2 linked regions of the Homo sapiens genome follow. The protein of the gene in region 1 purifies or fractionates together with the protein of each later gene. This does not show direct contact. Each region holds a gene or a part of one and is shown on either strand. Other genes may lie near its edges.

Region 1 (5,652 bases):
TCTTCAAATATTGCTTTTTCCCTGCACTCTCCTCTTTAACTTCTCAGACTCTGATAGGTTATACCTTTTTTACTATGTCACACATATTCCTAATGCTCCTATGTTTTTTTCTTTAAAAAAAAAATCTCTGCTTCAGTTTGGATATTTTCTATTTACTTGTCTTCCATTTCAGAAATTCTGTATTTTGCTGTTAAACCTGCATAAGGACTTCTTAATTTTAGATTTTAGATTTTTCAATTTTTGAACTTTCATTTGATTCTTTATTATAAGAACCAACTCTCTAAAGATAGTCCTCTTTTCATCTAACTCCAATTCTCTGTGTGACTGTTTCTATTGAATTTTTTCCTTCTCTGATTTTGGATATGTGGTCCTATCTTTTTGGATGTGTAGGATTTTTTTGTTTGTTTTAAACACTGTGTATAATAAGTTGTAGGCAGGGCTCATACCTGGGAGGCTGAGGGGGACAGATCACTTGAGCTCAGGAGTCCCAGACCAGCCTGGGCAACATGGCAAAACCCATCTCTACAAAAGATAGACAAATTAGCTGGGCATGGTAGCATGTGCCTGTAGTCCCAGCTACTTGTGGGGCTGAGACAGGAGGATTGCTTGAGCCCAGGTCGAGGCTGCAGTGAGTCGTGTTTGTGCCACTGCACTCCAGCCTGGATGACAGAGCAAGACCCTGTCTCAGAAGAAAAGAAAAAAAAAATCTTTCTCCACAGAGGATTCATCTTTCCTTATGTTAGCAAATGGAGGGAAGGGAGAACACGTACATCCAGTCAGGCACTGTTGATGTTGAAATAAGGCCGGGTTGAAGCTCTGCTAAGACTCACTTTACCTCTGGATCACCCTGGCTCCTGAGAATTTTCAGCTGAGAGCCCTTTTGTCCTCTAAAGACCCTCTTCCTGATAGATGCCCAACTATTTTCTTAACAGATACTAGACTTTTGCTCTGTTCTTCAAAGGCTGTTTGCTTACATTTTTAGTCTACTGCCCTATATACCCTAGAATTCAGCAAATATCCTGAGGGGAAAATGGCCATGTGTTTGAGTTATGTTGGTTTCTCTGTCACCCAGCTGCAGCCTTCTACTGCATTCTCCAGTAGACAGGACAAAATGAGAATCCAGGACAAAAGCTGGATTCTCAGCTTTTGTCCACAGCCAGAATTGGTAAATGCTCCCACTGTCAGAGTGACTGAATAAGTCAGCTTCAATCTTTAATATTCTCTCCTCTCCAGTCTTAGCCCCTATATTTCTTGCTACCTCAGCAGCTTTCCAGTGCTTTGAAACAGATGATTTCAAGTATTGCGTCTGGCATTTACAGTTCATTGTTGAAGGAAGCACTGGACTGCCAAGCTACTGCATCTCATCTGGAAATGGCAGTGCTGAAAAAGAGCCCTCTCCTTCATACACCACACAGTTTACCATTTAAAGTGTACCATATTAGGCTGGGTGTCGTGGCTCATGCCTGTAATCCCAGCACTTTGGGAGGCTGAGGCGGGCGGATCACGAGGTCAGGAGATCGAGACCATCCTGGCTAACACGGTGAAACCCCGTCTCTACTAAAAAAATTTTTAAAAATTAGCTGGGCGTGGTGGCGGGCGCCTGTAGTCCCAGCTACTCAGGAGGCTGAGGCAGGAGAATGGCGTGAACCCAGGAGGCAGAGCTTGCGGTGAGTGGAGATCGAGCCACTGCACTCCAGCCTGGGCGACTGAGCGAGACTCTGTCTCAAAAAAAAAGTGTACCATGTATTGATTTTTAGTGTATTCACTCAGTTGTACAGCCATCATTATAATCAATTTTAGACATTTTCTTTATCATCCAGATGGGTGTGAGGTAATATCTTGTAGTTTTAATTTGCATTTCCCTAGTGATTAATGACGTTGAGCATCTTTACATGTGCTTGTTAAATATTTGTATATCTTCCTTGCAGAAATGTCTATTTAAGCTTTTTACCCATTTTTAAAATTATTTTGTTCGTTGTCGTTGAATTGTAGAAGTTCTTTATAGTATATTGTATCACATTAAAAATAAGGTCCTATCTTGTTTCCATTCTGTAATCTCGATCCTTCACATTGAAAGGTTTTTTTTTTTGAATTCAAATATATTCTTTAAAAAATTATTTTAAAGTTTGTTTTTTTTTTTTAACAGGAATCAGTGTCATTCAAGGACGTAACTGTAGACTTCAGTAGGGATGAGTGGCAACAATTAGACCTTGCTCAGAAAAGCCTGTACAGAGAAGTGATGCTGGAAAACTATTTCAACTTGATCTCAGTGGGTAAGCACGGCTCTGCTGGGTATAGAGTAGGCTGCACCTAATTGAGTATATTTTTCTTCTCAGTAGAATTGCTGAAGTCTGTGTTTTCTGAGGTATGTGGGACTTCTAAAGACTGCAGGACATCTAAAGTGTGTAATGGTTTTGTCCTTATTTTGTCCCATGTTCTTAATAATCTCTTTCGGGTAGTGTGAATATTCCTCTGTTCCCAGTGAACTTTTTTGGGAAAAAAATGGAATGCTTCATTGTATGGCCTCTGAAATCAAGTCCTCTATCATCCCCTGTTAACAGGATGTCAAGTTCCCAAACCAGAAGTCATCTTCAGCTTGGAACAAGAAGAGCCATGTATGTTGGATGGTGAGATCCCCAGTCAGAGCCGTCCAGGTGAGAAGGGAACCAAGAGCATGGTAGACAGTATGACTCAGCTGCATTTGTACTGGGAGAAGCTGTGCCCAACTTTGCCCAACTTTGATGTGTCATTAATAATGACTTTTAGAACTGCTTGGAAGAGCAGTTATTAGACAAGGACCCTTGGATAGCTAAATGCTAACCCCACTTAAGATCCCTTCTCATATCAATGCCTTCTTCTTTGCTTGGCTTTTTAGGAGGGAATATGCTACAATTACTGGTTCTTTGGATCATGTCACACTCTACTTTCTAGGGTCCTGTTTTCTTGCTTTTTTCTCTCTTTCCCTAGAAAAGTTTTATTCTTTCTACCTCCATCAAGGTCTTAGATCATTTCCTTATGCATTCAAATACTCATAGATCTACCTTCTGAAAACATTACTATGCATTACAACTTCAGCTCCTGCTGTTTCTTCTCATTTTGTCTCTTTCCCCTTAGTGCCTCACAATTGTCATCTAGAGATGGGCTTGTCTGAAGTCCCCCCATGCCTCTTCTCTGATTGTTGACTTTGAGAGTACCATTGACATTTTCTTCCTACTTGGCTAGTGCAACGCAACACTGACTTGATCTTTCTAATTTATTTATTTTCATATCTTACACAAAGTTTTTTATCTAGTGTACAGGTATATCCTGTACAGAAGATTGAGTTAATAATTATAGCCTTAGTTTTTAGTCAATATCATCATCAATGTGTTTAAGGCTCCCCTCTTATTTATTCTTTTTAATCCTCAGTCTCCATACTCATTTTTATCCTTCCAAGAGGCAACTGTTCTAATATATTTGACATGTTATGCCATTTATCCTTGAATTTCTGGGATATTTATAAAATCTGAGTTGTTGGCATTGTTAATTTGTAGAAATGGTACTGTATTATATATCCTACTCAAGTTTTTTTTTCTCAAATTGGTCCATGTTGCAGTGCATTATTCTAATTTCTACATATCATTCTGTAGTGCACATATATACCCCATTTTACTTGTCCAGTTTTTCAGCTACTACAAACAGTACTGCAATACATTTCTTCATGAATTATTCTTACTGGAAATGATAATTTATTTATTTATTTTTTTCTGAGATGGAGTTTCGCTCTGTCCCCCAGGCTGGAGTGCAGTGGCATGATCTCAGCTCACTGCAAGCTCCACCTCCCAGGTTCACGCCATTCTCCTGCCTCAGCCTCCCCGGTAGCTGGGACTACAGGCGCCCGCCACTGCACCCAGCTAATTTTTTGTATGTTTAGTAGAGACGGGGTTTCACCATGTTAGCCAGGATGGTCTCGATCTCCTGACCTCGTGATCCACCCGCCTTGGACTCCCAAAGTGCTGAGATTATAGGCGGGAGCCACCACGCCCAGCCGGAAATGAGAATTTCTTAAGGAAGAGGAGTGGGATTGCTTTATCATTGGGCATACTAATATTGAATATGATGAGGTATAAGCACATTATTTTCCAGATTGGCTGTGTCACTCTACGGTCCCTGGAACTTTGTACAAGGGTATTAGTTCCCCACATCCCTACCCATACCTAGTATTATCCAAATTTTTAATATTTTGGCTAATCTGATGGGTTTTAATTTCTAATTATTATTTAATTTGTATTTCCCTAATAAAATACTTTGAACATCTCATTCTGTATCCTTCATTTTTGATGTTCAACTGCTGATGTTTTCTAAGCCTCATCTCTCTCTCTTTTTTTCCTGGACAAACTGAGAAAAAAGCCCATGAGTTCCCTCCATTGTTGCTGGGAAATTCCAACTACATAAGGGAATAGTTAGCCCAGCCCCACCCGCCCCTGCCATAAACTCCCAAGACAGTCCTTTCCTTGCTCACTCTAGCCCCATCTGGACCTGCTTGGAGCTGTCCCCAGAAAGCCTCATTATGTGAGTAACAAATCTTTTTACACCCTCTTATTGTGTGTGTCTCATCGTCACTCTTGACATCTGAACCAAGTTTGGGGTGGGGTCCATTTCTCCTTGCAGGTCATTTACAGCTGGGGCAATAAGCAGGATGTCAAGGCAATGACCACCCCCACAGGGGTCTTTCTCCTCTTCCCAACTGGTTATACTGCCTGCTGGCAAGTATGCACTTTGCCTCTGTCCTATACATAACTAACCTACATTAGAAGTTATCATGGACATTTAGAGGCAGGTGTAAGGGCTTTGGGCCCTCCTTAAAGTTGCCCAGGTCCATGTGTCTCAGCCCAGCATAATCTGTGTCTTAGATTATGTGTCTCAGCTGCAGCATAAGCTCTGAGTGATAATTGGCTCATGGGAACAACTTTTACTCTGTGACTGTTATTTGTGTGTCTCAGTCAGGCATTGGCCCTATTGTATACAGCACTCAGGGGAAAGACCAATACTGTTTGCATTTAAGGGTCTGGCTGTTTGTGTGAAGGAAGACAAGATACAATGTAGCATGTAAAAGCAGGTGGCTTGCCTTTCAAAATGTTGTCATCTTCTCTTGGAGTTTTTTTACTTTTCCCTCTAATCCATCTTCTCAGATAATTCATTCTGCTTTTCTACTTATTTTTCTCATTTACAAAAGCCTCTTTCTTACCTCCCAGTCATATCACCTACAACCATGTCTGTGTTTTCTCATGCCTAGATTATTCTAATCCTATTTGTATGTGATAATCCCATTCTTTCTTTTTCACTATTTCATCTCAGATGCTGCTGATAGATTTCACTACTTAAAACATTGTGTGCTGTGTTTATCCTGTCATAGCTACATGGAAGAAAACTAAAGTTACTACTTAATATCTAACATGTGACAGATTCTCCTCTCAGTAGGTTTGTAAGCTAGAGAAAGAATATGGCCTCATATTTGCAATTCACATTTGTCCCTGTTTTCTATAACCATTTCTATCCTATTTTAAGATTTTCTTTAATTCTCCCTTTTCATCGAGCCCTTTGATTATTATGTTATCTATCTGCGTATTCAAATAATACACATATTTTGGCTGGGCACAGTGGCTCACGCCT
Region 2 (4,576 bases), on another chromosome or scaffold:
CTCACTGCAACCTTCGCCTCCCGGGTTCAAGCGATTCTCCTGCCTCAGCTTCCCGAATAGCTGGGATTACAGGTGTGCACCACCACACCTGGCTAATTTTTTGTATTTTTAGTAGAGGCAGAGTTTCACTATGTTGGTCAGGCTGGTCTCGAACTCCCAGACCTCAGGTGATCCACCTGCCTTGGGCTCCCAAAGTGCTGGGATTACAGGCATGAGCCACCATGCTTGGCCCAGAGCTGTTGTTTTAAAGTAACTCTTTCTTTATAATAATACCTCCTTAGTTCTTCCTAGGGGAAGAGAATAAAGTGATTTGTATACTCATTAGTTGTGTTAACATTTTATTCTTTTGATTTGAAGTTAGCAATTGTTGTATTTTAATTAATTAATTAATTAATTTTTTATTGAGACAGAGTCACTCTGTTGTTCAGGATGGAGTGCAGTGGCACAATCTTGGCTCACTGCAACCTCTGCTGTGAGCTGAGATCCCCAAATTTTTTTTGGGACAGTCGAGTCCTGCTCTGTCGCCCAGGCTGGAGTGCAGTGGTCCGATCTTGGCTCACCACCAAGGATTATCTCTTCCCCCCTTGGATAAACTTGGCATCTTTGTTGAAAATCGGGTGTCCGTATATGTGTGAGTCTGTTACTGGGCTCTTTATTTTTTATTTTTTTTGAGACGGAGTCTTGCTCTGTCGCCCAGGCTGGAGTGCAGTGACACGATCTCTGCTCACTGCAATCTCCGCCTCCCGGGTTCACGCCATTCTCCTGCCTCAGGCTCCAGAGTAGCTGGGACTATAGGCACCCACCACCACGCCTGGCTAATTTTTTGTATTTTTAGTAGAGATGGTGTTTCACCGTGTTAGCCAGGATAGTCTCGATCTCCTGACCTCGTGATCTGCCTGCCTCATCCTTCCAAAGTGCTAGGATTACAGGTGTGAGCCACCACGCCCAGCTGGGCTCTTTATTTTTATCTGTTTGTGTATTGCCTTTTTTTTTTTTTTTTTTTTTTTTTTTTGAGACAGAGTCTCGGTCTGTCACCCAGGCTGGAGTGCAGTGGTGTGATCTCGGCTCACTGCAACCTCTGCCTCCCGGGTTCAAGTGATTCTCCTGGCTCAGCCTCCCTAGTAGCTGGGACTATAGGCGTGCACCACCACGCCCATCTAATTTTTGTACTTTTAGTAGAGATGAGGATTTACCATGTTGGCCAGGCTGGTCTTGAACTCCTGACCTCAGGTGATCTGCCCACTTTGGCCTCCCAAAGTATTGGGATTACAGGCCTGAGCCATTGTGCCCCGGCCTACTGTCTTGATTACTATAACTTTATATGAAGTCTTGAAATTGGGTAATGTGACTTCTTCAACTGTTATTCTGTTTCATAATTGTTTTGGTTATTCTAGGTTCTTTGTATTTCCATATAAATCATAAAAGCAACTTGTCAATATCTACAAAAAGGACTACTGGTATTTTAGTTGGGATTGCATTAAATCTGTAGGTCAGTTTGAGGAAAATTGCCGTTTAATAACGTTGAGTCTCATGTTGTTTTAAAAAATAGAGGCGAGGTCTCACTATGTTGTCCAGGCTGGTCTCGTAGTCCTGGGCTCAAGCAACCCTTGAGCCTCAGACTCCCAAAGTGTTGGGATTACAGGCATTAGCCACCACGCCTGGCGCTAGTCTCCTGATTCTTGAATCCTGTATATCTCTGCATTTATTTAGATCTTTACTTTCTCTCAGCATATTTTGTCATGTAGCTGGGACTACAGGCGCCTGCCACCACGCCTGGCTAATTTTTGTAATTTTAGTAGAGATGGGGTTTCACCATATTGTTCAGGCTGGTCTCTACTCCTGACCTCGGGTGATTCACCTGCCTCAGCCTCACAAAGTGCTGGGATTACAGGCGTGAGCCACTGCGCCTGGCCAACACCTGGAACATTTAATTGAACATTTGTTGTTATTGTCTTAAACACTGGATGCCCCAAAAACCCTGTGGTTAAAAATGAATGGTGAAAAAATATGAATGGTGAAACCTGTTTGGTAACATCTTTATTTTCAGGTTGCTGGAGGAGCCAGTATGAGTCAGATTTCAGAAGCACTGAGCCGATACAGGAACAGATCATGTTTTGTGAAGGAAGCCCTCCACAGGCTGTTCACAGAGACATTTTCAATGGAGGTAACCATGCCTGCTATTTTAAAGGTAATTGAAGGAAGACAATTTTTACTATTACTTCTTAACTTGGTTCAATTAATAATTGTTCACGAACCACACTGAATATAATAAATTATATGCTTTATTCTATAGTGAGTCAAGTGCTCTCATAGAGCAAAGAATGTTAAGCTTAGCTGCCAAAGTGTCTTTTGCTTTGAGCATCTGGATTTATGTGGAATAAATTAGAATCAAAACAGTTAAAATTTGGTCTAAGTAAGGGAATAATAGGATCATGTGGCTTTCTGAAAGAAAACAAGTGCAGAACAAAATAAAAATAATTAAGGGTGGCCAAATCTACCACTTGAAGTATTTTGTGAATGACATAAAGTTGCTTTTATCGATATAGCCAAACTTAGCTTTGGTTTAGGGAAGGATGCGTTTTATTGTAAATGTAATTACAAGTATTAAGAGGCTTGGGAAAGAAAACTTCAGTTATTTATTTTTCTTTTATACATGTGTTTATTTGAAAATTGTTGTTTTTAGTGAAACATAACAATGAAAGGTCTTAAGAAAAACCTTGTCTTTATTTGTAATTTTTTGCAATTCCTTAAAAATGTGGATATTTTCCCAGCACTTTGGGAGGCCGAAGCGGGTGGATCACGAGGTCAAGAGATTGAGACCATCCTGGCCAACATGGTGAAACCCCGTCTCCACTAAAAACAATACAAAAATTTGGTGGGCGTGGTGGCGCACTCCTATAGTCCCAGCTACTTGGGAGACTGAGGCAGGAGAATCGCTGGAACTCGGGAGGTGGAGGTTGCAGTGAGCCGAGATTGTGCCATTGCACTCCCTCCTGGTGACAGAGCGAGACTCAAAAAAAAATATTTTTACAGCATGGGAGATTAACTTTATTTACAGCTCAAAAGCTGTATAAAGAAAAACTCTGGGTCAGCTGTGGTGGCTCATGCCTGTAATCCCACCACTTTGGTTGGGAGGCCGAGATGGGAGGATTTCCTGGGGCCAGGAGTTCAAGACTAGCCTGATCAACATTAGTAAGACCCTGTCTCTACAAAAATTTAGAAAAAGAAAAAAAATTAGCTTCTGGCTGGGCACCATGGCTCACGCCTGTAATCCCAGCACTTTTTGGGAGGCTGAGGTGGACAGATCACCTGAGGTCAGGAATTTGAACAGCCTGGCCAACATGGTAGAACCCCGTCTCTACTAAAAATACAAAAATTAGCCAGGCGTGGTGGCAGGTGCCTGTAATCCCAGCTACTCAGGAGGCTGAGGCAGGAGAATCACTTGAACCTGGGAGGTGGAGGTTGCAGTGAGCCGAGATGATACCACTGCACTCCAGCCTGGGCGACAGAGCAAGACTCTGTCTCAAAAAACAAAAAAAAAGTTAGGTGGGCATGGTTGTACATGCCTATAGTCCCAGCTACTTGGGTGACTGAGATTGGAGGACTACGTGAGCCCAGGATTTTTTTTTGGTTTTTTTTTTTTTTTGAGACGGCGTCTCGCTCTGTCGCCTAGGCTGGAGTGCGGTGGCTTGATCTCCGCTCACTGCAGGCTCCACCTCCCGGGTTCACACCATTCTCCTGCCTCAGCCTCCCAAGTAGCTGGGACTACAGGCGCCCGTCACCACGCCCAGCTACTTTTTTGTATTTTTTAGTAGAGATGGGGTTTCACCGTGTTAGCCAGGATGGTCTCGATTTCCTGACCTCGTGATCCGCCCGCATTGGCCTCCCAAAGTGCTGGGATTACAGGCGTGAGCCACTGCGCCCGGCAAGCCCAGGAGTTTGAGGCTGCTACAGTAAGCTATGATGGTGCCACTATACTCCAGCCTGGGTAACAGAGCGAGATCCCAACTCAAAAAAATAAAATAAATTAAAAATTCTCGACCTTTTTTTCCATCTGTAAGGAAGAGATTGAATTAGATGTTCTTCTGTTTTTGTTTGTTTTTGTTGTTCTTTGAGACAGGGTCTCACTCTGTTGCCCAGGCTGGAGTGCAGTGGCATGATATGATCTCAGCCAACTGCAGCCTTGACCTCCTGGGCTCAAGTGATCCTCCTGCCTCAGCCTCCTGAGTAGCTGGAACTATAGGCATGCCCCACCATGCCTGGCTGTTTTTTTTGTTTTTTCTGTAAAGATGAGGTCTTACTGTGTTGCCTAGGCTGAATTTAGATGTTCTAAATTTCTTTTCATACCAGGATTGTGTAGTTTTTGTGAAAATCACATTTCTTTTGGTTTCTGGATTTCTAAATTGCAGATGATGGCAATCTAATGAAACTGAAAAATCAATTTAGCAATATACAAAAAAAAAGTCATTTTCCATAGCAGAAGTATATCCCAGGTCTGTCTCTAGTAGAGGAAACAGATCACAGTGTCCTTGAATGACAGAGCAGGTGGGGTCTAAGCTTGGAACAATGCCCTCAT

The links. The genes of interacting proteins can lie anywhere in the genome.
Region 2: the proteins of ZNF484 (region 1) and ZYG11A purify together in Homo sapiens (affinity purification with mass spectrometry; one large-scale study listed by BioGRID and IntAct). This does not show direct contact.

What each region holds. Positions count from the first base shown.
Region 1 is NC_000009.12:92,852,813-92,858,464, reverse strand, and holds part of ZNF484 (zinc finger protein 484), read left to right. Parts: intron 1-2,146; coding exon 2,147-2,273; intron 2,274-2,561; coding exon 2,562-2,654; intron 2,655-4,506; coding exon of another isoform or gene 4,507-4,551; intron 4,552-5,652. UniProt on the Homo sapiens protein: May be involved in transcriptional regulation.
Region 2 is NC_000001.11:52,858,684-52,863,259, forward strand, and holds part of ZYG11A (protein zyg-11 homolog A), read left to right. Parts: intron 1-2,047; coding exon 2,048-2,188; intron 2,189-4,576. UniProt on the Homo sapiens protein: Probably acts as a target recruitment subunit in an E3 ubiquitin ligase complex ZYGA-CUL2-elongin BC.